4 linked regions of the Homo sapiens genome follow. The protein of the gene in region 3 interacts with the protein of the main gene of each other region in a pairwise test. Each region holds a gene or a part of one and is shown on either strand. Other genes may lie near its edges. The genes, in order: KRT15, MTUS2, WAC and AKAP9.

The links.
Region 1: the proteins of WAC (region 3) and KRT15 interact in a two-hybrid assay, tested with the Homo sapiens proteins (4 studies listed by BioGRID and IntAct).
Region 2: the proteins of WAC (region 3) and MTUS2 interact in binary tests that used the Homo sapiens proteins (3 or more experiments, as listed by UniProt).
Region 4: the proteins of WAC (region 3) and AKAP9 interact in binary tests that used the Homo sapiens proteins (3 or more experiments, as listed by UniProt).

The regions. Positions count from the first base shown.
Region 1 is NC_000017.11:41,515,752-41,523,619, forward strand, and holds the start of KRT15 (keratin, type I cytoskeletal 15), read right to left. Parts: upstream 3,140-7,868; 5' UTR 3,077-3,139; coding exon 2,579-3,076; intron 1,467-2,578; exon of another isoform or gene 1,415-1,466; coding exon 1,332-1,414; intron 1,214-1,331; coding exon 1,057-1,213; intron 536-1,056; coding exon of another isoform or gene 515-535; coding exon 353-514; intron 260-352; coding exon 134-259; intron 1-133.
Region 2 is NC_000013.11:28,816,223-28,824,331, reverse strand, and holds the start of MTUS2 (microtubule-associated tumor suppressor candidate 2), read right to left. Parts: upstream 3,994-8,109; 5' UTR 3,721-3,993; intron 1-3,720. UniProt on the Homo sapiens protein: Binds microtubules. Together with MAPRE1 may target the microtubule depolymerase KIF2C to the plus-end of microtubules. May regulate the dynamics of microtubules at their growing distal tip.
Region 3 is NC_000010.11:28,535,697-28,543,689, reverse strand, and holds part of WAC (WW domain-containing adapter protein with coiled-coil), read right to left. Parts: coding exon 7,933-7,993; intron 1-7,932.
Region 4 is NC_000007.14:91,936,369-91,944,527, reverse strand, and holds the start of AKAP9 (A-kinase anchor protein 9), read right to left. Parts: upstream 3,667-8,159; 5' UTR 3,429-3,666; coding exon 3,381-3,428; intron 1-3,380. UniProt on the Homo sapiens protein: Scaffolding protein that assembles several protein kinases and phosphatases on the centrosome and Golgi apparatus. Required to maintain the integrity of the Golgi apparatus. Required for microtubule nucleation at the cis-side of the Golgi apparatus.

The sequences.
Region 1 (7,868 bases), on a different chromosome or scaffold from region 3:
CAGGGAGGGGGCACTGAATGGAGTTCAGGGAACCACCTCTTGAGGGGGCTTGAGAACTCCAAGGCTTAAATAGCCAGGAAGAGTGGGAGCTTCTACCACCCGAGAGGCTGGGATGGGGCGCGAGTGGCCGTACCATGCTGAGCTGGGACTGCAGCTCGATCTCCAGCTCCTGCATCGTGCGTCTCAGGTCTGTGATCTCCGTCTTGCTGGTCTGGATCATTTCTGTGTTGGAGGCCACCTCTTTGTTCAGCTCCTCAGTCTGTAGGTCATGCACAACAGAAGTGAGCCCCGGGGCCTCCTCGGAGACTCAGGGACCTGGGGCAGGAAGGGCAGGGCAGGATATAAGGCCCACCTTGCTGAAGAACCAGGCCTCGACATCCCGGCGGTTCTTCTCCGCCATGGCCTCGTACTGCTCCCTCATCTCTGCCAGCACACGGGTCAGGTCCACACCCGGTGCTGCGTCCATCTCCACATTGACCTGGCCGGCCAGCTGGCTGCTGAACTCCTTCATCTCCTGCAGGATGGGAGGGACCCACTTAGAGACGGAGAGCAGAAGAGAGACCTGAGAGTCTGGCGTCACACATGCCAATCCTGGCTCTGCCCGTAACACACCCCAACCGCTGTTCCCCATTGCACATGAAGAGGTTTGGTCACATGGACCCCTCAGCTCTAAGGAGTTCTCTGCTGCTCTAGGTCCTACCAAGGGAGGACCCCGAGACTGTAGGGCCCTGATGTGAGCTCACAAAGCCAATCAGGAAGTCAACCATTCATACGGGCCACCTGGGCTGGCTGTGGGCCTGGGCTACCAGACACTGCCCCTTCCTCTCCATGAGGACACCTGGTTTTGTGGGGTAGGTGTGTTTCTGAACCACTAAGCCCCAGGCCAACTATGAGGAAGTACCAACAGCCCCACTCTGCCTCCCACTGACTTAATCTCGTGAAAATCTGGGAGGGCTTCCTGGAGCCACTGTCTTTCCCTCTGGGCAATTTAAGTGAGTTTTGGGAAGAGGTTCCCCACCTCTCTCGGGTTCAGGGGTGATGGGGGCCAGCTCTCACCTCTTCGTGGTTCTTCTTCAGGTAGGCTAGCTCCTCATTCAGGCCCTCGATCTGCATCTCCAGGTCAGTCCTGGCCAGGGTCAGCTCATCCAGGACTCGGCGCAAGCCGTTGATGTCAGCCTCAACGCCCTGGCGCAGGGCCAGCTCATTCTCATACCTGAGGAGAGGGAGGCCAAAGAAGGAAGTGGGAGGGGTCTTGGCTGCCTGAGTCAGAGCCAGGAGAAGGCCAAGTAAAGTGGGCAATGCAGGAAGAGGAGAGAGACGGGGGAGCGCACTTGAGCCTGAAGTCGTCCGCAGCCAGCCTGGCATTGTCGATCTCCAGGATGACCCGGGAGTTGTCGATGGTGGTGGCCATGATCTGCAGGAGACAGAGTCGGTGTCTAGAGGACTCCTCTCTCTCCCCTGCTGCTCTCTGCTCTGCACCCAAGGCCAGCCCCTCATTGAAAATCACCCCTCACTGACAATCACCCCTCTGACACCACCAACAAAAATCTGTACGGCTTCTGGGGTGGGCAAAGTCCAGCCTCACTTTCAGTGTCCATTTCTTGTTTTGTCCCATCCAGCCTCCTTGAGACACCTGAGGAGCTGCCTTCCTTATCTCCAGGGCACGAAAGACCAAGGAGGCAGTATTGCCTGTGGGAATTGGTTGCCCAGGAGAGTGGGGCAGTGGGGTGCAGCCAGCTCTGACAATAGCTCTCTCAGAGACACTCCACCAGCCCCACTGTGGACAACTCATGGTCACTGCCTCCTGCACACCTTGGACACAGCCATGGATCTACAGAACATTCCAGCCAGTAGCAACCTGGAGGGCAGTTAAGAAGGCATTTTACGAATGAGGAACCCAGTCTTAGGGAGTAAAATGGTGAGTGAGTGGGTGGCAGAATGTGTAATGAGTTCCCAGGTCTCCTAAGACCCAACAGTACTTTTGGCACAAAAGACCTCTTTATAGGAAAAGACAAGAGGTTCTAGCATCTGGAACTCATGAGGCCACACTCCAATCCCATTCTTGCAAAAGAGGTAAAGGAATACTTTATGCAGAAGCCTGCAGGGTGCATGAGGTAGGGAGGGCGAGTTGCTCTTTTTTTTTAATTATTTTTATTTAATTAGATACAGGTTCCACTCTGTCACCTAGGCCGGAGTGCAGTGGCACAGTCATAGCTCACTGCAGCCTCTAAATCCTGGACACGAGCAATCCTATCACCTTGGCCCCCCAAAGCACTGGGATTACAGGTGTGAGCTACTGCCTCTGGCTCTTTATAATTGCCCCCACCTGTGCCCCTGTTGGTCCTAACCAGATTCCCAAGACCCCTCTCTCCCTCCCCCAGCACCACCAAGTTGAGAAGATGTGCACTGGCCTCTGCACCTGGACAGCAGGTGCATTCCAAATTTGCTGAGATTACATACCAGACAGTCATTGCCTGGGCAGGAAAGGATTTCCTTGAGTCAGCAGTAACACTGACATTAGAGCTGTGTACAGGGTACCAGCCACCTGCTCCCCTCTCTTTGACATCCGAGGACTCACCTTGTCCCGGAGCTCTTCAATGGTCTTGAAGTATTGGCTGTAGTCGCATTCTGGGCTGGTTGGGGTCTGCTTCTGGTACCAGTCATGGATCTTCACCTCCAGGTCAGCATTGGCCTCCTCCAGGGCACGTACCTTGTCCAGGTAGGAGGCCAGGCGGTCATTGAGGTTCTGCATGGTAATTTTCTCATTGCCAGAGAGGAGACCACCATCGCCACCACCAAAGCCACCACCAAAACCCCCACCAACGCCCCCTCCAAAGCCTCCACCGAAAACACTACCAGCCCCTCCACCAAAGCCACAGACCCTCATGCCACCCCCATATCCTCCTCCTGACCCTGAAGAGACAAACCTAGCAGAAGAAGCTGAGATACTTCGGCTTCCACCTCCCCCAGAGAGACTCCCCCCACCAAAGCCACCTCCCCCAGCCAGGAGGGAACCCCCTCGGGTTGAGCCACCCCCAAAGGTGGAGGAAGAAGTTTGCAGAAATGTGGTGGTCATGGCCAGGTAGCTGGAGCCCGTGAGTTCTCAGCAAACCCAAGAGATGCTGGCAGGAGGTACCAGGCCAGGCTGCACGCTGGGGCTCCTTATATACCCTTCAGAGGGTGTTGTGGGACCTCGTCTCCTCCCCTAAAGCAAAGCCAACTCCTTCTGCCTTCCTGACAAACACAGCTGCCTGCACACCTTGAGTGGGTCATGTGAAGTTTTTCTCTTCTATTTTTTTTTAATGCAACAAAAGAGATGATTCAGAATTAATAGTGTTTTTCCCCAGGGCACGGTTTTAACACTTGGATTACAGGTTCATCTCTCCATGCCAGAAGAGAGCAGCAGGGAGCGAACTCTCATCACAGCACAGCTACCAAGGCCTCTGCCTGTACTGAGAGCAGCTCAGGCCAACTGTGCCCTCAGCTGGACTTCACTTCCCCGAGCCCTGAGCCTCTCCCCAAGAGGACAGCTCCGTGTTCTTAGTTTGGGAGTCCACTGGCCGATCATTATGCTGTGTTATCCAACTCAAAACCCTGTGAGTGAGTGAGTGAGTGAATGAGTGAGTGAGTGAGTGAGTGAGAGACTGCAGGGCTCAGGGAGAGTGGAGGCCCTGGGGATGGGAATGCAGGGCCCCTGGGGGCAGGTGGAGGACAGGAGCCAGGGACCTTGAGTAGTGTTCCAGCTGAGGTGACCAGAGGAGCCAGCATCCATCCCCTTACCTGGTGCTGCAGATGGACTCCCCTCCTCCCACCTCTACTCCCCTCCTGCCATCCTCCAGCCTGTGTTCCTGGCACCCTCACAAAAGCCCAGCAGGCTTGGGACTGACAAGGGGATGACTGATGATCCCGACACCTGCCAACTGCACGGCGCTGAACCTTTGCTCGTTTCTGGGATGTGTTGGGGCAAACCTCCGCTGATAAGGCTGGGGCAAGTTCCAGGAAGCCCCTGCCTTCTCCAGGAGAGGCATGTCGCTGCTTAGCAGGGCCAGATTAGCCCCCATCTGTCCTGTCAAGTGCTGGCTGGGGACGGGCCGCTGCAGAAGGCTCTATGTGCCTGAATGCTGTGGAAGGGAAGAGAAGGGAGACTGGCAGGCAGGCTGGAAGACACCGGAGATCTTGAAGACCAAGGCATTGCTTCACACAGACGGGGAGTTGAACACTCAGGAGAGCCCTTTTCTCTGCCACCAGCTCAGGGACACCTTTCCAGGGACACCTGATACCTGTGGGCAGTGCCACTTGGAGGTGTGGCTCAGCCCTCTGGACCTGGCCCCAGGGCTTACAGAAACTCAGGAGGAGGATTCCTAGCCCAGGTTGCAGCATGGTGAAGTGGACAGGGCTCTGGAGTCCCTCAGGCCCGGGTTTGAATCCTGGCTTTATCAATTATCATGGTAAGACTGTGAGGCCTGGGTTCAAATCCTGACCCTACCAATTACCATGGTAAGACTGTGGACATTTACCTTTTTAAGTCTCTGTTTCCCTGTGGCAAGGGGCGCTCTCAACTCTCACTTCCAGGGAAGCCCTGTGGCCCAAGAGCCCCCATCCTGCCCCCTCCTGGATCCCCACCCAGGTGCCAGACATGCAGGGGCCAGGGTGCATGACCGGCACCTGCGCCTGAGTGCCCTCACCAGGAGGGGCTTTGTCGTTGGGCATCAGAACATGCCCTGTGAGCCTGAGCATGTTCTTAGGCTCAACGGCATCGACCTTCCATAGCCAGCTCCTATGGGGCAACGCAGGTTGTTCTTAGGTTCTTATTTTGCTATAATAGCATAATCCTTTACTTCTACCCTGCACTTTGTGATTTACAAAGCACTTTTGCATCCATCACCTCCTCTCATCCTCACAACAGAGGGTGACCCCCACCCAAGATTCAGAAAGAATGAAATTGAAACTTGGAGAGGTGAAGCAACTTGTGCCAGGTGGCACCACTGGTAAGGGGCAAAGCCAGGACTCAAACAGGTCCTCACACCCTCAACCAAACAGGGCACAGGGAAAGAGTCCTTCCTGCAGACCCCAAATTCCTGCATCTGAGCTGGGCTGGCAAGGGGAACTGCCAGCCAGCAAGGCTGGGGGTGGGTTCCTTCTCATCCATCTTCGCAGTGAGCCTGGCCTCCAATGCTGGGCACAGACAGTGTGGTATTGTCTCATGGGTGGGAGGGTATTGTCTTTTCCTCCGAAAGAAAAATAATCAAACTCAGATCATCCAGAGCTCATTAAAAGCCTCTGCAGACATTGTGGCCCCAGCAATTAACTCAAGAACAATTACTCGCCTTTCACCCCAGGGTGAGGAAGGGCTGGACCCCAGCCAGATCCCCTTCTGCACCTGACTCTCCTCCAGCAGCCCCTCGAGGTGGCTTTCTCTATACTCTCAGGCCCAGGCCAGGGGCGGCAGCTGCCCCCCTCACTGCCCCACGCACAAATCCCTGGTTTCAGTCCAAACCGCTACTGTGAGCTCCAGATCTGGGTGGGGCCCGGAGCCTCCTCATTAGCACCAGGTGGGATGGCCTTGCGAAGATAAAGCTCTGTCTGGCCCCAGCCCAGGCTGTAGCCCCGGGCCCTGCCCCAGGCAGCCTGCCCAGGATGCTGTGCCAGTTTCTGACCTTTGCCCACTGCAGCCAGATGGGGCCATCTGTGGAGCTGGCCTTTTCTCCTTAGAATGAGGCAGTGCAGCCCAGTGGAAAGAGACTCAGCCTCTCTGAGCCTGGTTCCTGATTTAAACTTAGGCCATTAACACAGACTCCCCTCAGGGCCATAGTGAGCATTTGAGGGCACAAGGAGAATGAAGTCTCCAACAACCTTAGAACCCTCCCACACCTCTCCTGTTCCCCAGGGAAATGCCAGGGAGAGGGGGTGTGTCCTGGAGCCCAGAGACTTACCTTTAAACCCCTCTTTTCCCATTTACCAGCTGTGCGGCTTTGGGTAATGCCGCCTCCTCTCTCTGAGCCTTAGTCTACCAATCAGGAAAATGGAAATAACTCCAGCTCAGCCTGACTCTCAGTTGGAGCAAGATGACTCACAGGAAATGCTCAACAGACTGAAGTGGCCACGATGACCAGCAGGATGTAAAGGCACTCCCCTCAACTTCCCCACTCCCCTCTCCCTCCTATCCCAGGTCTCCAGGCTGAGACAGAAAAGTGTCCCCAGTCCAGCCCCACCCTGCACTGTGCACACACAAAGGCAGGCTTCATTCCTGACACTCAGGCCTGAGACCTGACAGTCACCTGCCCCACCTGTGTGGGCCCAGACCCCGCCCCGCAGCCACATTCCAGGGGCCCCTGAGGCAGAGGGAAGGTTTCAGCTGTGACAAGGGAGGCTTTCATGGGCAGGGACAAGCGCCTCTGGGCAGTCCCAGCTGGGGGTGCAGCCAGGCCTCTCCCTCCAGCTCCAAGGCTTCCTGAGAAGTTAAGTTGGGGGTGGTGGTTTGTGGGTGCTGGAGGCCAGAACAGGACAGCTAGGGAGGGGGCAGAAGGGGGTCCCAGTCCAGGCTACAGCAGCGGGGCTCTGGGGTTACATGTTCATAACCAACCTTGAAACAGCTCCTCCTTCGGGATTGCCATGGCCGTGATGGGGTCTCCAGCCTCCTTAGCAGGGTGCTGAGTACATTTGGCAGCATGCGGGCGTGGAACTAGTGTCCCTCACTTGCCCCCATCACTCATAGGGTTGGGCCTGCAGCCCTCACCTCTCCACCAGGAAGAAGTGGGACTTCTTTTGGGGCCTCTTCCTTACCTTGAATTGGCCTCAGTTCTTGGCAGCTGAGATGTAAACCACAGGAGCAGGGCCATACCTACCCAAGGGCAGAGTTGTACCAGGAAGCTGGGACTTCGTTCTTTTGCTGGCCCAGGGCAGGCCCCAGGCAAGCCAGGGTTGGGGTCTCTGTGGGAGGTCTGGGTCACTGCTGGGTCCCATTCTGGGCTCTGGGCCCAGGTATGGGCTGGTGGGCGTTAAAGGGCTTATGCAGGGCTGCCCCAAAAATGGGTGAATGTGTTAGTGCATGCACACACACAACACACACTGACAGGTACAGCCTCCCCAGCCTTGCTCCAAGCGGGATGCCTGGCCCCAAACCCCCAGTTTCAGTGAGGTGGAGAAATGTGTCGGGAGGAACTGCCCCTAGGGATCCCCGGCCTGAGCCTTCATAGGGCACAAGACTGGAATGTCAGCAAGACCGGCACAAGTGGCGTCAACTCCAGGAGACCACCTGGCAGGGGCTGGCACCATGGGCTAAGAATCAGGCAACTTAGGTTCTAGTCCTGGCTCTACCATGTAGTTGCTGTGTGGCCTTGGACAAGTTACTGAACCTCTCTGAGCCTATTTCCTGATCTATAACATGCAGCTCATACTACCTTTTAGGGCTGTTTTTAATTCAATGGCACATAGTAGGTGTTCAATAAACATTAATTTCACACAGATACCTCAACGCCCTGGGGAGTAGAGTAGAAAGAAAACTAAATCTAGAAGCAAAAACAATTTCAAATCCCACCTTTGCCATGCATTAGAGCAGTTACATATAGAAAAAAACACTTCACCTCTCTGAGCCTTAGTTTACTTTTGTAAAATGGAAGCAATGCTTATTTCATGAGGTTATTTTAAGGAACGGGTTAAATAAATGAAGACTTCTGTAAACAGGAATTACCATTACAGGCAAAGTATGTGAGTACCCTCCCCTCCCTTTCCTGGGACAGAGTGAACTTTGGTTCAAATAAAACCTAAACAGGGCCAAGGCAGGACCCATCTCTCCATGGGCTCAAATAACAAACCGAACGACCTATTCTCTCCATGGGCTGAAATAATAAACCAAACGTCCTTCCTCC
Region 2 (8,109 bases), on a different chromosome or scaffold from region 3:
GGAATGGCTCACAGACACTGAGGAAGACACTCCAGGTGGTAGGAGATACACATATATCTCAAAGGCACAGAGAAAGAATTACAATTGTAAGTTTTTAATAAACGATCTAACAAAATGAAAGTCAGGGGCCTATTATCATTTGTGTGGGCTAGAACAAAAGATAAATTCTTTGGGGCAGCCTTGAGCTTTTCTAGGTAGGAATGCAAGTGAGGCTGGGTGATCCCAGACACATGGCCTTAGGCTGCTAGATGCCATGTTATATGGTTTGGCTGTGTCCCCACCCAAATGTCATCATGAATTATAATTCCCATAATCCCCATGTGTCATGAGAGGGACTAGGTGGGAGGTAATTTAATCATGGGGGAACTACCCTCATGTTGTTCTCGCGACAGTAAGTTCTCATGAAATCTGCTGGTTTTATACGGTGTTTTTCCCCCTTTTGCTCATTTTTCTCTCCTGCTGCCATGTGAAGAAGGACGTGTTTGCTTCCCCTTCCACCGTGATTCTATGTTTCCTGAGGCCTCCCCAGCCATGCTGAACTATATGAGTCAATTAAACCTCTTTCCTTTATATATTACCCAGTCTTGGGTATGTCTTTATCAGCAAGGTGAGAACAGGCTAATACACCATGCTACAGTGTTTTCAAATCCGTTGGAGGGTGGGAGCACAGACAAAATTGTTTGTGTTGAAAGCTGCAGTTCTTACGGGCCAAGGTTGAGGCCCAGTTGAGAAGAGGGCTCAGGGGAGCCTGACTAAAGTTTGGTCAAAAAGAGAGTCTCTGTGGATGGGTGGGTGGATGGTAGATAGATGACTGATGGATGGGTAATTGATAGACAAGGTATACCCGTTGGTGGGAAGGGTCAAGATGATAAGATCTAAAGGCATCCAAATTCACATAGGAAGTAGAAATCATTTCAGAGAAAAGGGGAAACTCCTTGACTCTTTTCAACAACTCGTTTCAAACATGTGTGTGGTAGATATTATAAGCCTCCCACTTGCTCATAAAAACTGCTAATGGGAACAAGCAGATACTCATCTAGTCCTTCCAAACCTGCATTTGTTTCCTGTAGGATATTTTCGAGGAATGAGTTTGTTTGCTTACTGTTGAAAATTCGTATTAGAGACCAATCCTGAGCTTACAGAAGGATCTCCTATGGAGCTGATGCTATCTGTTCCTATTAACATTTTATTAATGAAGCATCTTTCAATAGTTTTCCTTCCTTTCCCCTTGGCATCCTGCCTCTGAGAGGAGGAAGAGCTTTAACCCACTTTCCTCCCTTCCCCAACCCGTTTCCACTCTTCTCCACCTCCAGCTCACACACTGATCCAAAACAATCCCATGTGTGTGCGATCACGAGGCAAAGAGCTAGTTCTCCAGGTATGTGCCTGATTTCAGTGGCTCTATACAGCCCTAGGTTATAGCAGTTTGCATTTTCTCAGCAAGTCAACTATGATATTGTACAGATTTTTTTCATCTTTTCAGATGACAAAAATTAAACTAAGAATAGGCAATTTTATAAGTTAATACTTGAACACAGGTTTGAAGACAGGGATAGATTCAGGGTCTGTGGAACCTTGGGTTTATATAATTGGGGGGTGGGAATATAGAAAGAGTACTCTCCTTATTTAAAAAAAAAATCCAAAAGTACAAATACAAACTCAGGGATGACCACATGAACACACTGCCAGTGCCCCTCCCAGAGGGCTCCAAAGAAGCCTCTGTGACGGAGGGACCTGAGGCTTAGGTTCATTAGCTCCCCAGTCGATCTGCCTCTGCTGGAGATAGAAAGGACTAGAGAGGTTTCTGCCACAGCATTCAAATCTCTAGAAAATCGCTAAGCATAACAGTCTTCTATTACATCAATCCCCCAGATGCTATTCTTACCTCTCTTTCACAAACCACCATCCCTGCTGTTCCCTCCAATTTGGCAACAGCAATTCATTATAAAAGTGCGTATGCCGGAGTGGGTTTCGGCATCCTCCTGGATTTTGGCTTTAACAGTCTAGTTCCGTGTCAATTATGTAATAGCCCAAACAGGGAGTTTAATGGAGTACCAAAAGCACAGTCATAGCTCTTACATAAGCCTTCATAAACCATCCATAAGATCTGCTCCTAGATTTGGATATTTGGGATTACATAAGGGAGACAGAAAACACTGACTCAGAGGCCAGGTTTCTTTCTGACCTTAAAAACAATAAAAACTTTTTGCACTTAATTTACTAGTTTATAGTAAAAGTTTTTAATTTGATATGGAAAATAATCTTTCCTATGACTTACTTTACCGTGTAAACATAAATGAATATCCTGCCACTACTACTCAACTTTCATTGGTACTTCTGCAAATGAAATATATCACTTAAGATTCCCGTAAGTATTCTACATGGAATTATGGGTCCCTAATAAACATCAACTACTCTTCGCAGGAAAATCAAGAAAGAGCATTTAGACAAAACACAAAAGTCTACATGCTGTAATTCTCTGATGTGTCCCCTTTCCAATACCATTTTTTTCTTCCCATGTTTCTAACAACGTATTTTTGACTTACCTTAAACCACTGTAGCAACACCATAGGCTACAGAAAGTGACAATACAATGCTCCACAATGGGTCTCACCCCTGGCTACACGTTAGAATCACCAGGAAAGCTTTTTAACATTACAGGTATCAAGGTATCAGCCCAGACCAATTAGAACAGAATACTGGGTGGAGGAGGGACAAGGGCTGTTCCCAGCCATCAGTATATCTGATGTTTTCTACTTTTGTATTTTTACCTGAAAAAAATAGCCATAAATGTGAGTACTGGTTTTGGGGCCTGGGGAAAGGGAAGGGAAAGAGAGACACATCTTTAATAACTGGCAACTCACAATTACTAAGTTTCCATCAGAGATAAAAATAAAATCATTCAATAGTTTGAAAACTAGAAAGTATACATGTAGGATCTTTTTATCAATAAGTAGTCAAAGAATTCTCACCAATTCCTAATAGACTTTACAAAACCAATTTTTTAATGCTTTACAATTATACCTAATGACTTTTTTAATATAGGGTCCTATATTATCTTAAAAGGGTACCTCAAGCTAAGACCACTGCTTATCTCCAAGTAAACTAAAAGCATGACACTCTCTTCTTAGGTGCTCTGGTAATCACACATAACTTTACCAATGAGCAAATTTTTTTAAGCATTTATATAACAGAGAGTACAGGCGCCTTTGGTATCCTGCCAAGAGTACTTCTTTCCGTGTTTGTATTTAAAATAGAATGGTAGTAACATCACTTGTGTGCCTGTAATTCCTTCTGTGCACAGGCACAGAATGAAAAAAAAAAATGGATGTAGCAAGCCGCTTCACTGCTTTACCATTATAAAGCTTGAAGGAAATAACACACTCATACTAAATTAAGACGAAGACTCAGACCAAATTATCCAAAGCTGGGGGTGGGTAGGGGAGAACTCGCCTTAACTAACCTACCAACGCCTCTAAAGCAGTGGGTGTTGAACCTGGCAGCAAGCGAAGGTGCCAAAAGAGCTGCAGTCCCTAAGCCAGAGCAGGTGATGTGGGCAGGAAGCATCAGCGCTCTGGAGACGAGAAGCCGAACCAGCCCGGCGCTGCCCCGAGCCCGGCTGCGCGCTCCCCAACTCCGCTCACCTGTCTCCGGCGGGTCCAGAGGGCGGCAGCAGAGCCAGCCGACCCCACCGGACCGCGCAGCAGAGGATTCGCTCACCTGGGTCAAAAAGAGCCAAGAAAGATGTAATGTCCAAGAGGCCACCACTGCCCTCACGGAGACGCTCATCTCGGGCCGGGTTCCGCCACGCTGCTTCCTCCTCCTCTCCAGCTCGAGTTTTCTATTTACCGACAGGTCTGTACTCCGCTAAGCGGTCAAGGGTTTCCGCAGAAGGGGGGAGATAAACTTGCCCTGAGAGCCGGCGGCGGCGGCGCAGGTGGAGCGCGAGGGGCGCCCCCGCACCTGGAGCCGCCGGCGCTCGCTATCACCTCTGCCCGCCCACGCCCGCGCCGCGGCTGCGCTCCGCTCCGCGCCCCCGCACTCACCTCGGCGCAGGCACCGCCCAGGCCGCCGCCCCCGCTCGAGGGCCGGGGCGCAGCCGGGGACCGGAGCCGCCCGCACGACGCCCAGGCGCTCCCGGCTCCGCCGCGGCCGCGGCTGCTCCTCCAGCCGCCTCGCCTGGACAAAGAGAAGCCGCGGGGCCGGCGGCCGCCCAGCCCAACCTTCGCAGCGCGCCACGCAGCCGGCGCGCCTCGCCCGCGAGGTGCCGTCCGCGGTGACAGTGGCCGGGCGGCGAGCGGGCCCGAGCGGTAGGCGGCGCGGGGCAGCTGATGCGCGCACCCCCTCCCGGCCGCCCGGAGACGCACTCGCCGAGACCCAGGCGCCTCCTCCCGGCCCGCGCTCCGCGCCCCGCGCCCCGCGTCGCAGCTCCGCAGCCGGGAGCCGTAGCGCCCTCTGCCGACGGCCCCTGCGCCCGCTCCTGCGCGCGCGCCTGCCCGCCCCAGCCCCAGCCCCAGCCCCAGCCCCAGCCCCAGCCCCAGCCCCCGCCCCCGCCCCAGCTCCCGCCTCAGCCCCAGCCCCAGCTCCAGCCCCAGACCCAGACCCAGACCCAGCCTCCGCAGGCGGTGGGCGCGGCGCGGGCCGCTGCCCGCTGCGCGGCTGGTCACCGTGGTGCCCTAGCATCGGACCCCAGGAGAAAGGAGTAAGAATGAGTTGGCCGTTCCAGGGCAGGCCTCCAGGAATGGGTTCCGCTGTTTTCCGCTCAGAACAGAAGAGGGAGCCGCTTCGAATTAGGCGCAGCAGGAGGCATTGGGGTTCAGCATCGGGAAGAACTTTGGAGGACGCTAGGGTGCCTGATTCATAGGAGCCCAAAGCCAGTCTCTGAAAAGATTTGCGCAAAAGGCAGGCGTTTCTTTCTAGAAGCAAGCTTATTTCTATGTTTAATGAGCACCAAATGTGCCTCCCCACTGTCCGAGGGGTTCCAGCGAGCCTTGACTGCTCTTATGGTAAGGTAAATAGATTAATTAATGATTTCTCAAAGACCTTTTTCCAGTCCTACCTGAAATGCTCAGACTCCCTCACGCGGTGCACCTGGAGGTTTGAAAAGGCAAGCGAAACCAGAGGACTTCTGCAGACTGATTCAAACAGCAATGGAATAAACATTTACCATTATAAAGATGAAACGATGTTGCTGGTCTTTGCACTATTTAGGTTGGCGTTTTTTGTTTTTAGGGGATGTCTTTCCAAACCACTGTGTTAACCAATACTTTATGACAGTTAATTTTTTTTTTTAACCAACTGGACTACTTGGTGAAGGGAAATCATGAAATGGCACTTTTTTTTTTCAGACCACTGTCTTTAAAAATTATTCCAGAAGCTCTCCCTTCTCCCCTGGAAGAATCTGGGGCAAATTTCATAGCTTTTCCTGTCACTTTCAGGTGTTCATAAACAGTCAGATTTGCTGATAATAAAAAGTCCAGCCCAATCCAAATCAAAACTTTAATCGCAATCCATTCAAGCCTTCCCCACTAGCCTCCCACCACCCACCAGACCCCAACCTGACCCAAGCTCAGAAGCCTGCAAGGAGGAGGAAAACGACCTTCGCTTCCTGCTTCTGTGTTCTCCCCAGCTAGCTCTGTGAAGACGGGTTCCACCGCCGGGCACGGAGGCTCACGCTTGTAATCCCAGCACTTTGGGAGGCTGAGGCCGGTGGATTACTTGAGGTCAGGAGTTCGAGACCAGCCTGGCCAACATGGTGAAACCCTGTCTCTACTAAAAATACAAAAATTAGCTGGGTGTGGTGGCGTGCACCTGCAATTCCATCTCCTCAGGAGAATTGCTTGAACCTGGGAGGTGGAAGTTGCAATGAGCCGAGATCATGCCACTGCACTCCAACTGGGCGACAGAGCAAGCCTCTGTCAAAAAAAGAAGCCGGATGCGGTGGCTCACGCCTATAATCTCAGCACTTTGGGAGGCCGAGGTGGATGAATCACGAGGTCAAGAGATCGAGACCATCCTGGCCAACGTGGTGAAACCCCGTCTCTATGAAAAATACAAAAAGTTTAGCTGGACATGGTGCCACATGCCTCTAGGCTCCTCTACTCGGAGGCTGAGGCAGGAGAATCGCTTGAACCCGGGAGGTGGAGGTTGCAGTTCACGGAGATCGCTCCACTGCACTCCAGCCTGGCGACAGAGCGAGATCCGTTTCAAAAAAAAAAAAAACACTGGTTTCTCAAGTTGGGCAGGGTGGGGTTCTGACCCTGCAACTTCAGCCTCAGCTTCACTGGTGGTCAGCCTCATTCAGGCCCTCTGCAAGGCACCATGCCCTGGCAGTCAGTCCCAGCTACCTTCCACCACGTGCGTGCTGACCCACGGACACCAACTGGCATTTGGCCCATCACGCTATAGAAGTGCAGGCCACTGTCACTGCAGTTCTCTTTTCTTCTTCTCTGGTCACAGGTAACTCTGACCGGCCTCTTTCCTTGAAGCTTCTCAGCCATCTCTGGGTTCATGCATGTCCCCACACTCCAGGTGACACATGCCAGGCTCTCCAAGTAGTTCTTTGGAAGCATGCCTTTCTTTGCATGAAGTGGGTGGGTCCTCCTTCTCCCTGTCAGCACCGTGTCGTTCTCATCTTCTCCCTTGATTGCTCTCTCCTTTCCTTCAATTTGGTCTGAAGGTGGCAGAACCCCAACTTAGCAAATCCTACAAAGATGGTCCAATACCTCCATTTATATGGATTTATGTGTGGGGATACCTATCTGTGTGGTGGCATGGAGGGAGGTGATCCCCTGAGATCTTGGAAGCTTGAGCAACTGACAGCCTTCAGCTGTCACACATTTGGATCCACCACAGAGCTCATACCAAGGTCACACATTCCCCAGCTGTTTCCAGCTCACAACGGAACATGGTGAGAGCGCTAGAGCTATGCCCTTTCTGCCTCTAGTGGGCAGTCTTTGCTCTGGAATTCCTACCACCCTACCAGGGCTTTCTCAGAATGTGCTGCAGTCTGGAGCTCTTCCTACCCAATCTTCTTCCCTTCCCTCTCTCCATTCACAAGTGTCAGACCTGTATTGCAGTCAGAAGGCACTCCTCACCTGCATGCCAGGCTCCTTCTCCCTCCTGCACTATCCTGCACAGGTGTTTTCTTTAAAATATTTTGGCACATCTAATCCTATCTTGACATCTGCTTTTCAGAGGTCCCAAACTGTCATAGTTATCTATTGGCCCACCTGGCAGCATTCCAAGATAAGTCTTATTTTAACAGTTGGTTATGCTGTATTTAGAAACTGTGAAAAGAACAATGGCAAAATCATGGAGCCAACCTGAATGTCAATGAACAGTTGACTGGATAAAGAAGATGTGGTCCATATATTAATGCATCATGGAATATTATGCAGCCATCAAAAAGAATGAAATCATGTCTCTTGCAGTGACATGGGCTGGAGCTGGAGGCCATTATCCTAAGTGAAGTAATTCAGAAACAGAAAACCAAGTACCACACATTCTCACTTATAAGTGGGAGCTAAACAATGAGTACACATGGACATAAAGATGGAAATAATAGACACTGGGTCACCAAAAGAGGGGAGGGTGGGCAGGGGGCGAGAGCTGAAAAATTACCTATGGGGTACAGTGTTCACTGTTTGGGTAATGGGTACACTAGAAGCCCAATCTCCAGTATGCTCATGTAACAAACAGGCACATGTACCCCCTGAATCTAAAATAAAATTAATTTTTTTTGAGATGGTGTTTCACTCTGTCACCCAGGCTGGAGTGCAGTGGCACAATCTCAGCTCGCCACAACCTCCACCTCCAGGTTCAAGTTATTATCCTGCCTCCGCCTCCCGAGTAGCTGGGATTACAGGTGCATGCCACCATATCCAGGCTAATTTTTGTATTTTTAGTTAAGATGGGTTTTCACCATGTTGGCAAGGCTGTTCTCGAACTCCTGACCCCAAGTGATCCGCCCGCCTCAGCCTCCCAAAGTACTGGGATTACAGGCATGAACCACCGCGCCCAGCCAAATTAAATTAAAAAAAAAAAAAGCTGTGAAAGGAAGAGTAGAATGTTCTCTTGAATTAAATATATATATATATATATATATAT
Region 3 (7,993 bases):
TACAAGAAGCACTATATAGCTCAAGGACCCATTAACTCCAATCTTGCTTTGCATAAATATGGCATTTCAGAAGTCAAGCATACAAAATACTTTCCTTAGAGAAATAAAAATATATGTAAAAGCCAGACAGGCCAACAGGGCGATCACATTCCTCAGAACCGCATTGTCCAATTCAATAACCATCATTCACATGTGGCAATTAAACACATGAAATGTGGCTTGTCCAAACTGAAATGTGCTGTAAATGTTAAATAGACACTAGGTTTCAAAGATCTTGTACCAAAAAGGGAATGTAAAGTATGTCATTATAGTTTTTAAGGTATCAATTACAAGTTGAAATATTTTTGATATATTAGGTCAAATAAAATATACTAAAATTGAATCATTTTTAGTTTTTAAGCAAAGCTACTAGAAAAGTACACATATGGTTTGCATTTGTGGCCAACATATTTCCACTGGACGGTGCTGCTATAGAACCTTGTTACTCTAGTGAAGTGTAGGTATCACCCGAGATCTTGTTAAAAGGCAGATCTTTGGGACCCACCCCAGAATTACTGACTATAGTATCTCCAGGTGCTTAGTATACACATTCAAGTTTGAGGAATGCTAATCCAAAATACTATAATTTCATTCCCCTTAAATTATAACAATCCAAATTTTTTTTATCTATCCATTTAGTTAAATGCTATAAAGTTTCAGGCACTATTCAAGGTAACAGGAATACAAGGTGGATAAAAACATTAAAACTCTCACTTCCTCTTCTGGTGGAGCTTATATTCCACAAAAGGCAAGCAAACAAAAACTAAAATACAGTCAGTTCTGCTATAACATTTGTTTCCAAATAGACAAATTTGTTTGAAGGCTACTGATCTATCAGAAACCAGCAAATTTCCCACTTATGTGTATTTTCACCTGTGAGAAACACTAGCTACATCAAGCTGCACAGGAATTTACAAGGCAGACACAGCTCAAACATCTAATAGCTATCTTAGTTCATCATGAATTATGAGTCAGGTCCATCCACATTTGATGTTACAAGTTTTTGTCTCGTATCAGGTATCTTCCATCCATCACTTTACAGTAATTCATGAACTGCAACCCTTCCAATGAGTGGCCACTTTCACAAGAAGTCAGGTTTTGGTCAAGGTAAAGTGCCATTTATTGCGGTGTTATTCTTTAACCATTTTATACGTGTAAAACTAAGTTACAATTTTTATTAGGTTCCTATCTTTTTAAAATGTGTCACTGACAATGTTTTTGGTTACTGTGCTCCTAACTCCATTTTCCCCATAAATTGGTCTGGTGCAATGTTGCACAGCACCGTGACTTTCAGAAATGCCCATGTCATGTTATAGCAGAATGACTATAAGTAAATCATAACAGGTCACCTTCATACAAGGAAGGAACACGCAGGGGCAAGGAAAGACAATGATGAGAATGACTGTTTCAGAGTGTTCAGCAAGGGCAGAGAAGGCCCTGTGAGAGGGTGACACTTAAGCAGACACATTACTGAAGTGAGTGAGCACAGTAGGAGAAACATAAAGGCACATAATGTGCAGAGCCCCTGAGACAGGAACAAACTTCTGCCTGCAGGGCCAGTATGGAGAGAGTAGCACAAACAAGGGGAAGATAGTAGAAGAGGCTGAAAAAATACCCAGACACCAGATTACACAGGATCTATTATAAGATTTGCTAAGAAACAGGGAGTCACTGGAGGGCCGTGAGCTTGAGAGAGATGTGAGGTGACTGGCATTTTAACTGGATCACTCTGGCTACTGTGTGGGGAAACAATCATACAAAGCAAAATGGACTCGGGAACACTAGGGGGCTCTTGCAGAATTCAAGCTAAGAAAAGGTGGTAGCCAGAACTAAAATGATAAAATAGTGAGAATTAGTTATACTTGGAGTATAATTTGAAGGCAGAGATAAAATTTTATGTGAAGAGACTTCCTTTCCAGTTTCAACAACAGTAGGCTAAATACTTTATAATTTCATCAGTACAACAGGAATAATACTGATCAGCCTATTTCAAAGAGCTACTGTGGAGTCAGATGAGAAACAATATAGAAACCCTTTGAAAATTATAAAGCATCATACAAATCCTGAAAAGGACTGTTCATAGAATATATTTGCAAGCCCCAAATAACCAAATAACTGATTTTGCCAGGGGGTGGAGGTTGCAATGAGGTGAGATCGAGATCGTGCCACTGCACTCCAGCCTAGGTACAGAGTGAGACTGTCTTAAAAAAAAAAAAAAAAAAAAAAAAAACAAAACACACACACACACAACCCCACAAAAATTGGTTTTGTAATTATCAAATTGACAATGAGTTATATCTAGTGCCTGGTATAGCATCCCAAATGCCCAGCTTATTTCCATCTTCACTCTTTCCAGCATCATAACAAAATGATGCACTACCCCCCAAACAATTCTGCACAACAGAATAAGGTAACAGATGCTTAATAGACACAAATTAGAATATATAAATTTTCTGTGAATTACAGACCAAAACCCCAAGTATGTTACACCAAAAATTTTAAATACTTCCTGCACAACTAGAAAACAGTTCAATTAAGACTGTCTTAAGGATCTAAGGATCTAAGTGAACTCATTCCAAAATACTGATTGTAAAATAGAAATACCATTAAATTATAAACAATACATAATAACCATCTCTCTAAAAATATAAAAAGTTAAAATGTGATTATGAGAAGCGTAAGACAAATGACTTGGTACTAGTGTTCAAATTTAACAATTTACATGCACAGATGCTTACATCACAGACACTGTTTTCTAAAATTAAAAAAAAAACAATGAAGAGTTGAAACATTAAGACTGCTACTCCTTCAATCTTATTCCACTTCTCTTGAAACAGAGTATGTTTCCTGTGTTTTCTAAATTGACCAATGGAAATCCAATGCAAACATTTCTGCATAGTATTATCACAAAGCATAAATCAATGAAAAAAGGTCATGTGTCACTATTTTTACTAGACAAAAAATACTTAACATCAGTCAAACGTATTATTAAAATCCAAACGTTAGTGTATTATATTCTATGCAATGTTTCCACTTCGTAAACAAGTCTTTAAATATGAGGGATTAAGAGAAAATGGACTTTTCCTAGTGAAATCTGTGTCATGCTTCCATGTCAAAACTTATTTTTGAAAATAAAACACTGATGTGATAACTGCGCCTAGAACTACACAAATACATCTTATCAAGGTACTATAATTTGGCAAGTTGTAACCACTGAGGGAAGAAGGGTGAAGATATTAGCAGGATAAAAGCAAAAATGCCTTCAAACTAATTCATGCCATAGTAACCACCACCAAATAAGCTTTCAATACCCAAGTGTTTAATCTCTGACAGCATACAAGTTACCGAAGTTAGAGAACTAGTTTCTAGACTGAGCTGTTGCTCTCTGTTCAATTTTATTAAATTTTCCCTCATTTGTAAAACTGGAAATAAGGATACTATCTGTTGTCTTCCAAAGTTAACATGAGTATCAAAAGCGACTGTTAATTTGTATACTTACTTTCTATACAACATTTCTAATGTTAGTAATTTGTAACATTACTAACTCAAAGCATATTTCAAAGTCATCTAAACAACGGTAAGACCATGTTGCTCAACTGCCAGTCTATTATTCAATGTGAAAGACTCAAACGTTACTAAATTATATTAAAAAAAGACATTATCACCAAATAATCCCTACTAATTCCTTCAAAATGTTAATAGTAACTTTTATTTGAAAGTTAGGGAGATGAAAATACATTTCCAAATTTTTCCAAAGATATAGCTAAATGACAAAATAAAAACTTCACTATGGGCCAGGCGCGGTGACTCACGCCTGTAATCCTAGCACTTTGGGAGGCCGAGGCAGGTGGATCACTTGAGAGCAGGAGATTGAGACCAGCCTGGCCAACTTGGTGAAACCCTATTTCTACTAAAAATACAAAAATTAGCCGGGCATGATGGCGTATGTTTGTAATCCCAGCTACTTGGGACATTAAGGCAGAAGGATCGCTTGAACTCAGGAGGCAGAGGTTACAGCGAGCCAGGATCACACCACTGCACTCCAGCCTGGGCAACTCTGTCTCCAGAAAAAAAAAAACCAAAAAACAAACCCTAACGATTGTACCTTAAGGTTTTTGCTTTTGGTTACTTTAAACAAGATTGTATGTTTTCAGACAGATCACAGACTATATAAAAATAACTCATTTCACAAAAAAATATTTTAATTATACTCTCACATAACCTATCTTAAATTTACAATAGACATTATTTCCTTTAATAAATCCTAATGGATAAAATCTCTAACTCTAAACTATACACGCTATGTTACAGCAAGTCTTATTTTAACTAGCAAGGTTTTTGGGAATAAAAACCTTCACAATCCCTGATTTCTCACTTTTTATATTGTATCTGCAAGTCCTTTCATACATTACTTCTGAACGAGCATTTTTCAATGAAATCCAAGATGCTAAGAAATCTAGTAATTACTGAAAAATGCTGTGATGCCAGTAAAGCCTAATCCTAAGGTAAACAAACGCACAAGTTCCACATTTAACTTGCTTTGTAAAATGCAAGTTACAAATCATAGCATATAGGTTATTATTAGTAAAGAAAATCATTAAATCTTAAAATGAAAAACTGGGAAATTTGAATTCAGTAGTTCAATGCATATAGTAAGTAACCTGCTGTAATCTTAAGTTTTTTACATGCTTAGAGCTTAGATAATCCAACTCACTTGCATTTGATTTTTGATAATGGTCTTGAATTTATATACATTAATTTTTTTCTTTTTTTTTTTTTTTTTTAAACAGACGGGTCTCACTCTATCAACCCAGGTTAGAGTGTGGTGGCACAACCACAGCTCACTGTTAACCTCAAACTCCTGGGCTCAAGCAATCATCCCACCACACCCAGCTAATCAAAAAAAAAATTTTTTTTTTTTTTAGTAGACACAGGGTCTTGCTATGTTGCCAAGGCTAGTCTCAAACTCCTGGCTTCAAAGGACCTTCCCATCTCAACCTCCCAAGCAACCAGCATTACAGAGATGAGCAGCTGTGCCTGGCTGAATTCTTTTTTTTTTTTTTTTTTTTGAGACAGGGTCTCAATCCGTCTCCCAGGCTGGAGTGCAATGGCACAATCTCAGCTCACTGCAACCTCCACCTCCTGGGTTCAAGTGATTTTCCTGCCTCAGCCTCCCTAGTAGTTGGGATTACAGGCACTCGCCACCGCAACCAGCTAACTTTTGTATTTGTAGTAGAGACAGGGTTTCACCACGTTGGCCAGGCTGGTCTCAAACTCCTGACCTCAGGTGATCTGCCTGCCTCGGCCTCCCAAAGTGCTGAGATTCCGGCGTGAGCCACTGACCCGGCCTGAATTCATTTTTGGATAAAAATCCAAAGGAGTTTATAATGCCTGCAATAAAAATCATACATATACACTTTTAACATCTTAGTGCCAAACACATCATTAGCAATAAAAAATAAACACCAGAAAACAAATTATAATGACTAAATATCTCACTATAAAATGAGGAAAAATCACCATTTTACGTTTTTTGAAGAGAGAATATCAAAGATGTACTCTCAATTCCAGAATGGAGATATACCTCATATTATTATTTCCATATAATATAAAGGAATATGGCAGCCAGGTATGTTAGAGATGGTAGAGACAGGAATGGAATCACAGTATTAGCTGGAAGACTCCAGAAGACGACAATCAGCTAGAAAGAAAATTGGAAAGTGGGGCCTAACTTAGCAAGTGATTAGATCAGAAAAACATCAAGTTTCTTGCAAATGAAGCTAAAGAAACATCAGGAAAGATGCAAATTTTTAAAAACGAAAAGCTAACAAGTACCTGGAGTTCATACAGGTAGAAAAATGAAAAAATCAAAGTGAAGAAAAAATGGGTACAGAAAAAGTAAGTGGCTAAAACACCACTAGCTCTCAAGAGTCAAAGCATTTAAGAATAGCTTCAAGGCCAGGATCACATCTTGACTCCCAGGAGTATCACACAAATGTTGGCACACAGTAGATGCCCCAGGTTTGTTGAATGAATAAGCAACAGAATGTTCTTGGGATTACTTCACCTGTAAAAGAATTGGCTGAGCAAGGTTTGCTGGAAATGATTGAAAGCATTTATAACTGAAAAACTGACTTCTTGCATTTGGGGATAAACTGGATCATAGTCACTAAAATAAGAGCCTATTTGTAAGAAGATGAGGTGCCATATCCTATTTTGTTACAATCACCAAATTTTTCAAAATAAATACAGTATAGTACAACCAGTACCTGCTCTCCAAGAGCTAACATTAGAAATGAAATCCACTATAGAAGAGTGGTTGATAGAGAGTACCATCTCAGGCTTTACATAATACTATGGAAAACTTACCCACAAAACTGATAACTCTAAAAGCTTAATTTTGCAACCCAATAACTTGTAACACTTTAATAATCAAATACACCTGCTACTACTGTTACAAAAATGTGGTTTATCTGCATAAATAGCACTAAGCTATAACTACATTCAATAGAGAACTACTTTCTTCTCATCCAAATTATTCAATCCCAGTGCAATCTTCTGACTGTATTTTCTCAAACCAGTAATTATGTAGAGGAAGCCAATGTTTCTCAGTATATGATCACACTGAATAAAGCTGATTTCTATCCTAGGTGGACAAAAGGGGCAAGATGCAAGGTATTTTTTTTAAAGTAAGCCAAGTATTGAAGAACTAGCTGCCAATAGGGGCAAAAAGTCACATGGTACTTTACTGAGTTTCCTTGGAAGCTTTTAATATTGTAAATCTGCTTAAGATATGTTATCTACTTAAGCAACATGTAGGAGAGAATATAGGTGTCTTTACTGAAATTGCTTTGTTCCTTAATGCATGCTTTTGACATGAAATGTAATTCGGGCAAATTAAGTCTGAAAATAGTTACTGAGAATTGGTTTTGTTTACTTATTCTCAGACTCCTACCACAAAGAGCTTGAGGCAAACTTATAATTGAAGGTACAGGACTGTGCAAAAGAAATCAGACTAACTTTTAAAAAGAATATTTCAATGAACCAGGTATAAAAATCACATCACCAAAACTGGAGAATACTGAAAATGTTTACAACAAAAAGCAAGAATGTATTTTCTAAGTCATAAATAATTTTTTAAATCTGGGAACTATCCTGAAAAAACATAATGAGTTTTTAAATTCATAGTTTATCATTGTAATTAGAAAACAGATTTGAACACCTTAAAAAGTAACAAACTGAAGCAACAATAAGGATCTCAAACTGAAATCTTTAAAAGGTCAAAGTTCCTTTCTTGGAAAAAAGTCCTGCATTTTTCCCATCCTTAAGAAAGCATGTTTTAAACTATATTCATAAATGCATTCCCTTATTATTAAACACTAAAGTCCGCTTTTTTTTTTTTTTTAATGGAGTCTCACTCTAGCACCCAGGCTGGAGTGCAGTGGCACCATCTCAGGCTGACTGCAACCTCCACCAACCAGGTTCAAGTGATTCTCCTACCTTAGCTTCCTGAAGAGCTGGCACTACAGGCGCCTGCCACCACCACCATGCCCAACTAACTTTTGTATTTTTAGTAGAGATGGGTTTTCACCTGCTGGCCAGGCTGGTCTTGAACTCCTGACCTCAGGTGATCTGCCCGCCTCGGCCTCCCAAGTGCTGAGATTACAGGCGTGAGCCACCGCGCCTGGCCTTAAGAGTCCACTTTTTAGATGCTCACATCAGCATCTTGTTTCTACAGTAACTTGTTCAGAGTAAAAAAAAAATGATAGGATTAAAATATTTTAATGACATAACTGAACAGTAACTTCTTCAAGCTAGAAATACTACTGCCGCCTTTTATATAGAGCTATTGTTAAAACTGTATGTCAAAGTTTCAACAAGAAAGATACTCACCACCATCCCTCTCTCTAACTCTGTGAGTATGCACATTTTTGGCCTTACTGTGACCTGTGCT
Region 4 (8,159 bases), on a different chromosome or scaffold from region 3:
GTAATCCCAGCTACTTGGGAGGCTGAGGCAGGAGAATCGCTTGAACCTGGGAGGTGGAGGCTGCAGTGAGCCAAGATCCTGCCACTGCACTCCAGCCTGGGAGACAGGCTGTCTCAAAAAAAAAAAAAATGGCATTTGAATATTCTTTTCTGGTCATAAAAGAGATACATTGTATCAAGAATTTGGAAAATACTAAAAGTATAAAGAAAATTAAAATTGCCTATAAGCCACCACCCAGAGATAGCCACGATTTACATCTTGGTGCTTTTTTTCAGGTGTCTTCATATTTAAATATGTACATATACCTTTTCCTGGTAACTTTTTTCTTTTTAACCTGGCATTATTTGTGGGCATTTTCCACACTCAAAAAGTCTTTGTAGAATTATTTTACATATCATAATTTATTAACCCATTATTACAGATTTGGGGTAGTATAAAACATTTTATACAGTATACTATATATTATACTGCATACATGACAAACTGTTTAAAAAGTGATCATTTATAAGGTTTAGATACAGAAAGGGAATTTTCCAATGGAACTGTTTATCAATAAATTACCCCCAAAAAGATTTGTAAGTTGTGGTTTGCAAAACTAGATTATCAAATACAATACTTAAGTCCAGTGAACAAATGAGACATTTGCAGAATGAAGTCTCAGATAAACTTTGGAAAATGATCATTTAAAGTTGTTTCTGATGCCAGCAATATGGATTTCACATTAAGAGAATTCTAGATTAATGTTATTAAATTACAACCGTGCTAGGAAAGTAACACTTATTAATGACTCATTAATCATTCTGTTCATTCATTAAGCAAATATGTATGAATAACTATTTGAAAGGCATTATATTATGGTGCATTAATATCAATAGTAAAGCTTTCTTAGTAATTCTATAAAATGACATAGTAGTATTTAAAACACTTTAACAAAACGTGGAAGAATATCCCCCAAATCCTACTGCAGCTCATCCCTCTTTGTACTTATCACCCAGAGTCTGTCTCTCCCACTAAACAGTGAGCAACTTGAGAGCAGACACTGTCACCACCTCTAGGTATAAAATAGGGATTCAATATACGTTTGCTGAATAAAATTATAATCCAGAGTTTTTCAGTTCTAATCTGAAAGCACACGTTTATACAAATGAAATAATGTACATACTATTTTTGATAATGCCCTTTTCACACTATTTTTCATATTCCTATCAGTCTTCATAATCTTAATGGCTTTAAAATATTCCATCATATTTATATAACTTAGAAAATGATTCCCTTCGTGTTGTCTTTAAAAGTTATTTCCAGGGGTTTTTTTTTGTTTGTTTGTTTTCTGAAACAGGATCTCATTCTGTTGCCCAGGCTGGAGTGCAGTAGCATGATGATAGCTCACTGCAGCCTCGAACTCCTGGGCTCAAGTGATCCTCCCACCTCAGACTCCTGAGTAGCTAGGACTACATACAGGCGCACACCACCATGCCCTGCTATTTTTTTTTTTTATTTAATTTTTTGTAGAGTCTCACTATGTTGCCCAGGTTGGTCTTGAACTCCTGGTGTCAAGCAATCCTCTCGCCCCAGGCTCCCAATGTCAGCATTTTTATATTGTATAGCTAATGTTGCAGCAAACACACCTTGCCTTACAAGTCTCATAGATTTATATCTTACTGGAAAAAGGGCTAAATTCTAAAAGAAGATAATCTTTTACAACAAAAATTCACCTTAAACAGGTTTTTACCCCATACATAGAATTCTGAAAGATAAAGAAACACACAAAGAAACTAGAATTGTATTTTGCCACATCAACTACAACTGCAAGCAATTTAAATAAATCCTCTATTATGAAATGTGTATGTCCAAAGTAAACCATGTTTTGTAGGACTGCTTCACATATATTCAGGAAAGACATTTCTGGGGGCAGGCAATAAAAATTGTGAGGTAACAGACAAGTAAGACATCTAATCAGATCTTCAATGCTTTTGGAGGGGCACACACTTCACCTCCACTACTTCCGTAGATGCATAGAGCTTGCTCAGCCCCTCAGATTGCACAAGTGTAGGCTTTGGACTTCTAAAGATACCCTGATTCCCCTTTCCCACCATTTATAGATTCGAAAGTAAAAATTTACCTGGCTATATACAAGCATTTAAACCTTGATCTTAAATAGAGGGAGCTTATAGGAAAGTCAACTATATTTTAGAAATATGAAGCTAGTTTTTATATATATATTCATTTAACAAACTTGTGTTGAGCTTCTATCACTGCATCTCTGCGGTATGGCCCTTCATTGATAATAAATCACTAACCTGGTTTCCTTTGTTTATGTGAGGAGAAGAGAAAGGAAGAGAGGAAAAACAGTTACCTGTAATACAATTTTTGTCCAAGTATGACTGCTAACAATTATCTCTAAAAATAATATAATCCATAAAAGAAGACTTCATTGAAGGGAGGAAGGGGGCTTTTGAGCCCAGACAAAATATATGCTCAAATATGTAATTTTTAAAAGAAATATGCTACGCAGCTTATATTCTGTATATGTTAAATTTCTCATGAAGCCCAATGAACGATGCCTGTGTATAATTGTGTATTGTATTGTTTGCTTTACAGGCTTTTCCATAACCGTTCACACACACACACACACACACACACACACAACCAGGATTCGCCAGAGAGATATATAACAACTAAATTATTTAAAGCAGGAATTCTATAGGTGTTGGCATATGGAACCTTTCGGTCCTCAGAAGTTCCATTCACAGACTGCATTAACATTCCATAGGACACAAAAGCGCATGCCATGACAAAGACCTTCAAGTACAAACATACAAAGACACGCTTCTAAAAACGCCCCTAAAGCCAAGTTCACAGCTGGCACTTGTGGCACACACAAGCCACTGCTGAGACAGCTGTCACAGGCCAATCACACACACCCAAGAGTGCCAGCGTGCTACCTAAGGAAGACAAGCTGATGATCAGCGCACAAATCCCCAACCCAATAAAGAAAAGCCCTAAATCCCCACCCTGGAAAGCACAATGCCTGCACCACCCAGAAAACTCCTTAAAAAAATGAAAGATCGGAGGTTTAGAAGCAACTAAACACTAGTTTACAGCAATACAGTAAAAGGGGAGTTTTATTTGGACATTCACGAGAAAGGAGCCACAATATTCAATCCTCGCGGAAGTATTATCAGCTAGCACAAGGCTTTGTCCCCCAACTGGAAAAAGGGGAAAGGAGGAGGGCGAGGAGAGATGCAGACCCTAAGACCCTGCAGCACCTCCCTCTCGGGCAGTGCACTGGGGCTGCGGCGAACTCCGCTTCCCAGGCCCCCTCCCACCCCGTGCTAGCCACCGCCTCCCACCGCAGGCCCGGTTGCCTCGGGCTCTCCTACCTTGGCTTTGCCGGCCTCCAGCTTCTTCTGTCTCTCCTCGTCCTCCATGGCCTCTGCAAGGAAGGCAGGGGAAAACAGGGGTTGAGGGGTGGTTGGGGATAGAAAGGAAAGGTCGATTTGGACGGAGGTGGGACGGCAAGCTCCACGGCCTAGAGAGCCGATTCGGTCCGGCGCTCCCCCGCCCGAAGTGGAAGCAGTCTCCGCGCTCACTGGCGGATCGTCCTCAGCCGCACGGGAAGCGCCGTCACCGCCGCCGCCGCCGCCATCTTCGTCTCCACGTAAACACACGGCGAGGCGGGAGGGGCTGGAACGTCTGTCCGCGCAGCCGCCTCGTGGGCAGGTGCTCCTGGGGTGCCGCCCCGGCCCAGCCCTCCGGGGTCAACCCTTGCCAGGCCTGGGACCTGCCTCCTACCAGCGAGGATCCCGCCGTAGAGAGCGCCCTTCCCGCACATCAACGGCTCACAGGTGGCGGCCGAGCTGAGGGGTAGGAGAGACGGAGTGTGCCAGAGGCTCCTGGCCTGACCCCCACCCTCCGTCCGAGGAATCCACTGCTATTAAAACATGAGTTTTTTTTTTCCTTCAGGTTACAAAACTAACACACCTAATGGTGAAATTGGCGAACACCTACAAGCTCCAACGGAAAAGTTCCGGTGGGGGGTGGTGGGGGGGCGGACGCCAGGTTTTCTACCTACATTAACTGCTTGACTCAAGAATTATGAGAGCAGCTAATTGCTCTTATTACTTCCTTAGCCTGAAAAGTCCCTCCCTCTTCCCTCCACTGGTTCCCACTCAATCTCCGGTTCATCCTTATAGTCCCATCGCACACGCTGCCTCCAAATGGCTTTTCTGACCTCTTGTTCCCTCCACGGCAACCGAGACACATCCAGTCAAAACTTAGTCCCCTCCCCCGACTCTTTGGGGCTTCCCTTTAACAGTAGTGTTCTGAAAGGAGCCTGAGCTTTAGAACCTCGGTTAGGGACAATGCCAGACTACACTAACTTTCTAGCGTTAATGACAAGTTACCTATCCTCCCTGAGCCTACCTGGAATTTTTGGAAGGGTTGTTAATATATGTGACTGCCCTGACATATTAAAACGTCCTGAATAATGTCAGCTTTATTTCTCCTTGGACTTCCTTTAAGTACCCTGCACCATATTTTAATAATTTGTGTGCGTCTTAGTTCAGCTCATACTCCCAGCTCCTTGATGACAGAGACTCATCATAAGTCTTGCTCATCTTGGCTTTACTAAAATGACCAGCACAGAGCTCTGCACTCAATAAACGCTTTTTGGATTGAATTGAGCAGTGTTTATAAATTTAACATTACTATCTTTCCTTGTTTCCCCGACATGTGCTCCCTCAGTCCTTTGTGTTCGTCTCCCTGCCCTCCAATGCTCACATCCATTCCTGGAGTGAACTACACATTTTAATGTCTCTGGTTGATTACTCAGATTTATCATGTTTCTCCGTTGCTTTGAGCTAGGTTGGACTGAAAAACTAGCAGTTGTGAACAAAAAATAGGCTAAAATGAGTTCAAGCGTAGAAGTGGTGTTAAGTGAAAAATTGAGGTTAAAAAACAAAAAAGGAGATAATAAAGACCTTAAGTCTACCACAAACTGAAGATGAGTTTTAAATAGCCCTCATTTAGAAATCTTAGCTTTAAAAAAGATTTTTTTCTTAAGCTCCGTAATGCATACATTCTGCCAACTTCTAACAGCCAAGTGCATATTGTCCTGTTATCTCAACCTGAATTAGGAACCAGGTAAAATTAGACATTTTATCATAGGGATGAAAGAATTGAGGCAATAAGTGATTTACTTAGTCACCCATCAAATTAAGAGTAAGGACTAGAACTAAGTGTTCTAATAGTGCAGTGATTTAAATACTGCCTGGATTGAGGGATTATGAGTGTAGATGCTGATTGCCTAGGAGGGGGAAGCCCCAGGGTATCCAAAGCTATTCCTGTTTGTTAAAGGATACTGCTTTCTCGGTGACTAAATAAGTCAGCTGTTTGTAGGTGCTGAGAATGTTCAAGAATACCTTCCAAAGCAACAAGATTATTTCAATGTTTCCTTCACTGATAGCAGCCAATCATATACATGTCTAGTTTACATAATGGGTGCTCAATCAATGTTGAAAGTTAGATTTGTGTTAACTTCTATTAGAAGAGCAAGCATTGGGCACTAGTGTTCTGACTCTTCCTTATGGCACCTATTCTGTCATAACTTGTCATACCAATCATTAATTCATGTCATGTCATTCACTTACTCAGGTGATTCTTTCAGAAGATATTTCAGCAAAGACTTGAAAGAGATGAGGAGGCTGGGCGGGGTGGTGCACGCCTGTAATCCCAGCACTTTGGGAGGCTGAGCGGGGTGGATCGCTTAAGCTCAGGAGTTCGAAACCAGCCTGGGCAACATGACGAAACCCTGTCTCTACAAAATAAATAAATAAATAAATAAAAATAAAATACTGGGTGTGGTGGCGGGAGCCTGTAGTCCTAGCTACTCCAGAGCCTGAGGCGGGAGGATCACTTGAGGCCGGGAGGCCAAAGCAGTGAGCCCAGATTGTGCCACTGCACTCTAGAGTAAGGACCTAGACAACAGGTGACACTGTCCCAAAAAACAAGCAGGTGGTGGGTGGGGGTAGAGAGCCACGGAGATAGTTGAGGGTACAGCAAATCCAAAGAAAGGCCCTCAAGCGAGACCATGATGGACCTTCTCAAGGAAGAGTAGGAGGTGAGGGTGGCTAGAGTGGAATAAACAAGGGAAATAGTAGGAGATGAAGTCAGAAAAGTAACAGGGGGCCAGATCCTGTAGAGTTCTTTTCTTTCTTTCTTTCTTTCTTTTTTAAACGGAGCCTCACTGTGTCACCCAGGCTGAATGCAGTGGCCCAATCTTGGCTCACTGCAACCTCCCGGGCTCAAGCAATCCTCCCACGTCAGCCTCCTGAGTAGCTGGGGCCACAGGCGCACTCTGCCATAGCCAGCTTATTTTTGTATTTTTTGTAGAGGCAGGGTTTCACCATGTTGCCCAGGCTGGTCTGAAACTCCTGAGCTCAAGCAATCCGCCCGCCTCAGCCTCCCAAAGTGCTGGGGTTACAGGTGATCCACCATGCCCGGCTTCAGATCCTGTAGAGTTCTAAAGGTCATTGTAAGGACTTCAGCTTTTACTCTGGGTAAGATTAGGAGCCATTGGAGAATTTTGAGCAGATGAATGACATGATTTGGCTTATGTTGTTCACGGACATTTGGCTGCTATGAGGAGAAAGGGGGATCAGTTTGGATGTTATTTCAGTAATCCCAGATAATGGGAATTTGGGCCATAGTACTGTAGTGGAGGAAAAGATATGGAATCAGATTCTGGATATCTTTTGAACATAGAACCAATAGTATCATAGGAGTTGTATATTGGATATGAGGTTTGAGACAAAAAGAAAAGTCAAGGTTGACTCCAACATTTTTGGCTTGAGCAACTGAAGTGATGAAGTTGCCAGTAACCAAAATGGAGAAGAGAAAATCTGGGGACCAAGTGTTCAGTTTTGGACATGGTAATTTAGACATACACATTAGGCATCCAAGAACTGATGTCACCCTAAGACATCAGTTAGTCTGGATTCAGGAGACAGGTCCAAGCTAGAAATAGAAATGTGAGAGTAGTCAGTATTCAGGATGTAGATGGTATTTTAAGTTAAGGAATTGGATGAGATAATCTAGGGCCATGCTATTCAATACAACAGCTATTAGCTAGTCTGAATTGAGATGTGCTGTAAGTGTAACACTTTGGATTTGGAAGACTTAATATTAAAATAAAATAACAAAATATTGCACTATTTTTATATTATTAAAATGATTATATTTGGGACCTATTGGGTTTAATAAAATATATATTAATTTCACCAGTTTCTTTTTTTTTTAAATGAAGTTACTACAAAGTTTCAAATTACATATGTGGCTTGCATTTGTGGCTCACATTATTTTTCTATTGGACCATGCTGCTTTAAGGAGCAAGTTTAGATAGAAAGGTGTTACAAAGACTGAGTTTTGGAATACTTCAACTCTAAGAGGGAGGCAAGGTGAGCAGAATCTGCAAATGAGACTGAGAACAGTGGCTAGATATGTGAAAGGAATCAGTAGCCAAGCGAAGAAAGTGAAGGAGGAGGGAGTGATGAACCAAGACAACTGCTACTAATAGGTCACGTAAAATGAGGATTGGATATAGCAAGGTGAAGGTCACTGGAGGCTTCCATAGAAGGCACTGTAAATCAATCATTAATTATTTCCAAATGAGTGCAAGCACTGCTTCAGTATCCTTCTCAATAAAGAGCCTCTGGCAGTCATGTCCAATGGACCAGAATTGAAAAGGGAAATAAAATCTAATTGGTCTCCTCTATTGGGGTTACATTCTAGTGATTCTGTTTATAACATCTGTAAAATTCATGATTTAATTAAGCTACATTTCTTTTAGTGTTGATGTGCCTTCCAATAGTAAGAATACCGCACAACACTCATTTCCCCTGAGAGATTAAATACAAGATTTTTTTTTTTTAAGACAGGTTCTCACTCTGTCGCCCAGGGTGGAGTGCAGTAGCACGATCACGGCTCACTGCAGCTTCAACCCTCCAGGCTCAATTGATCCTCCCACCTCAGGCTCCTGAGTAGCAGGTACTATAGGTGCATACCACCACACCTGGCTAATTTTTAAAATTTTTTTGTAGAGATGGGATCTCCCTACGTTGCCCAGGCTGGTCTTGAACTCCTGAGCTCAAGCAATACACCCT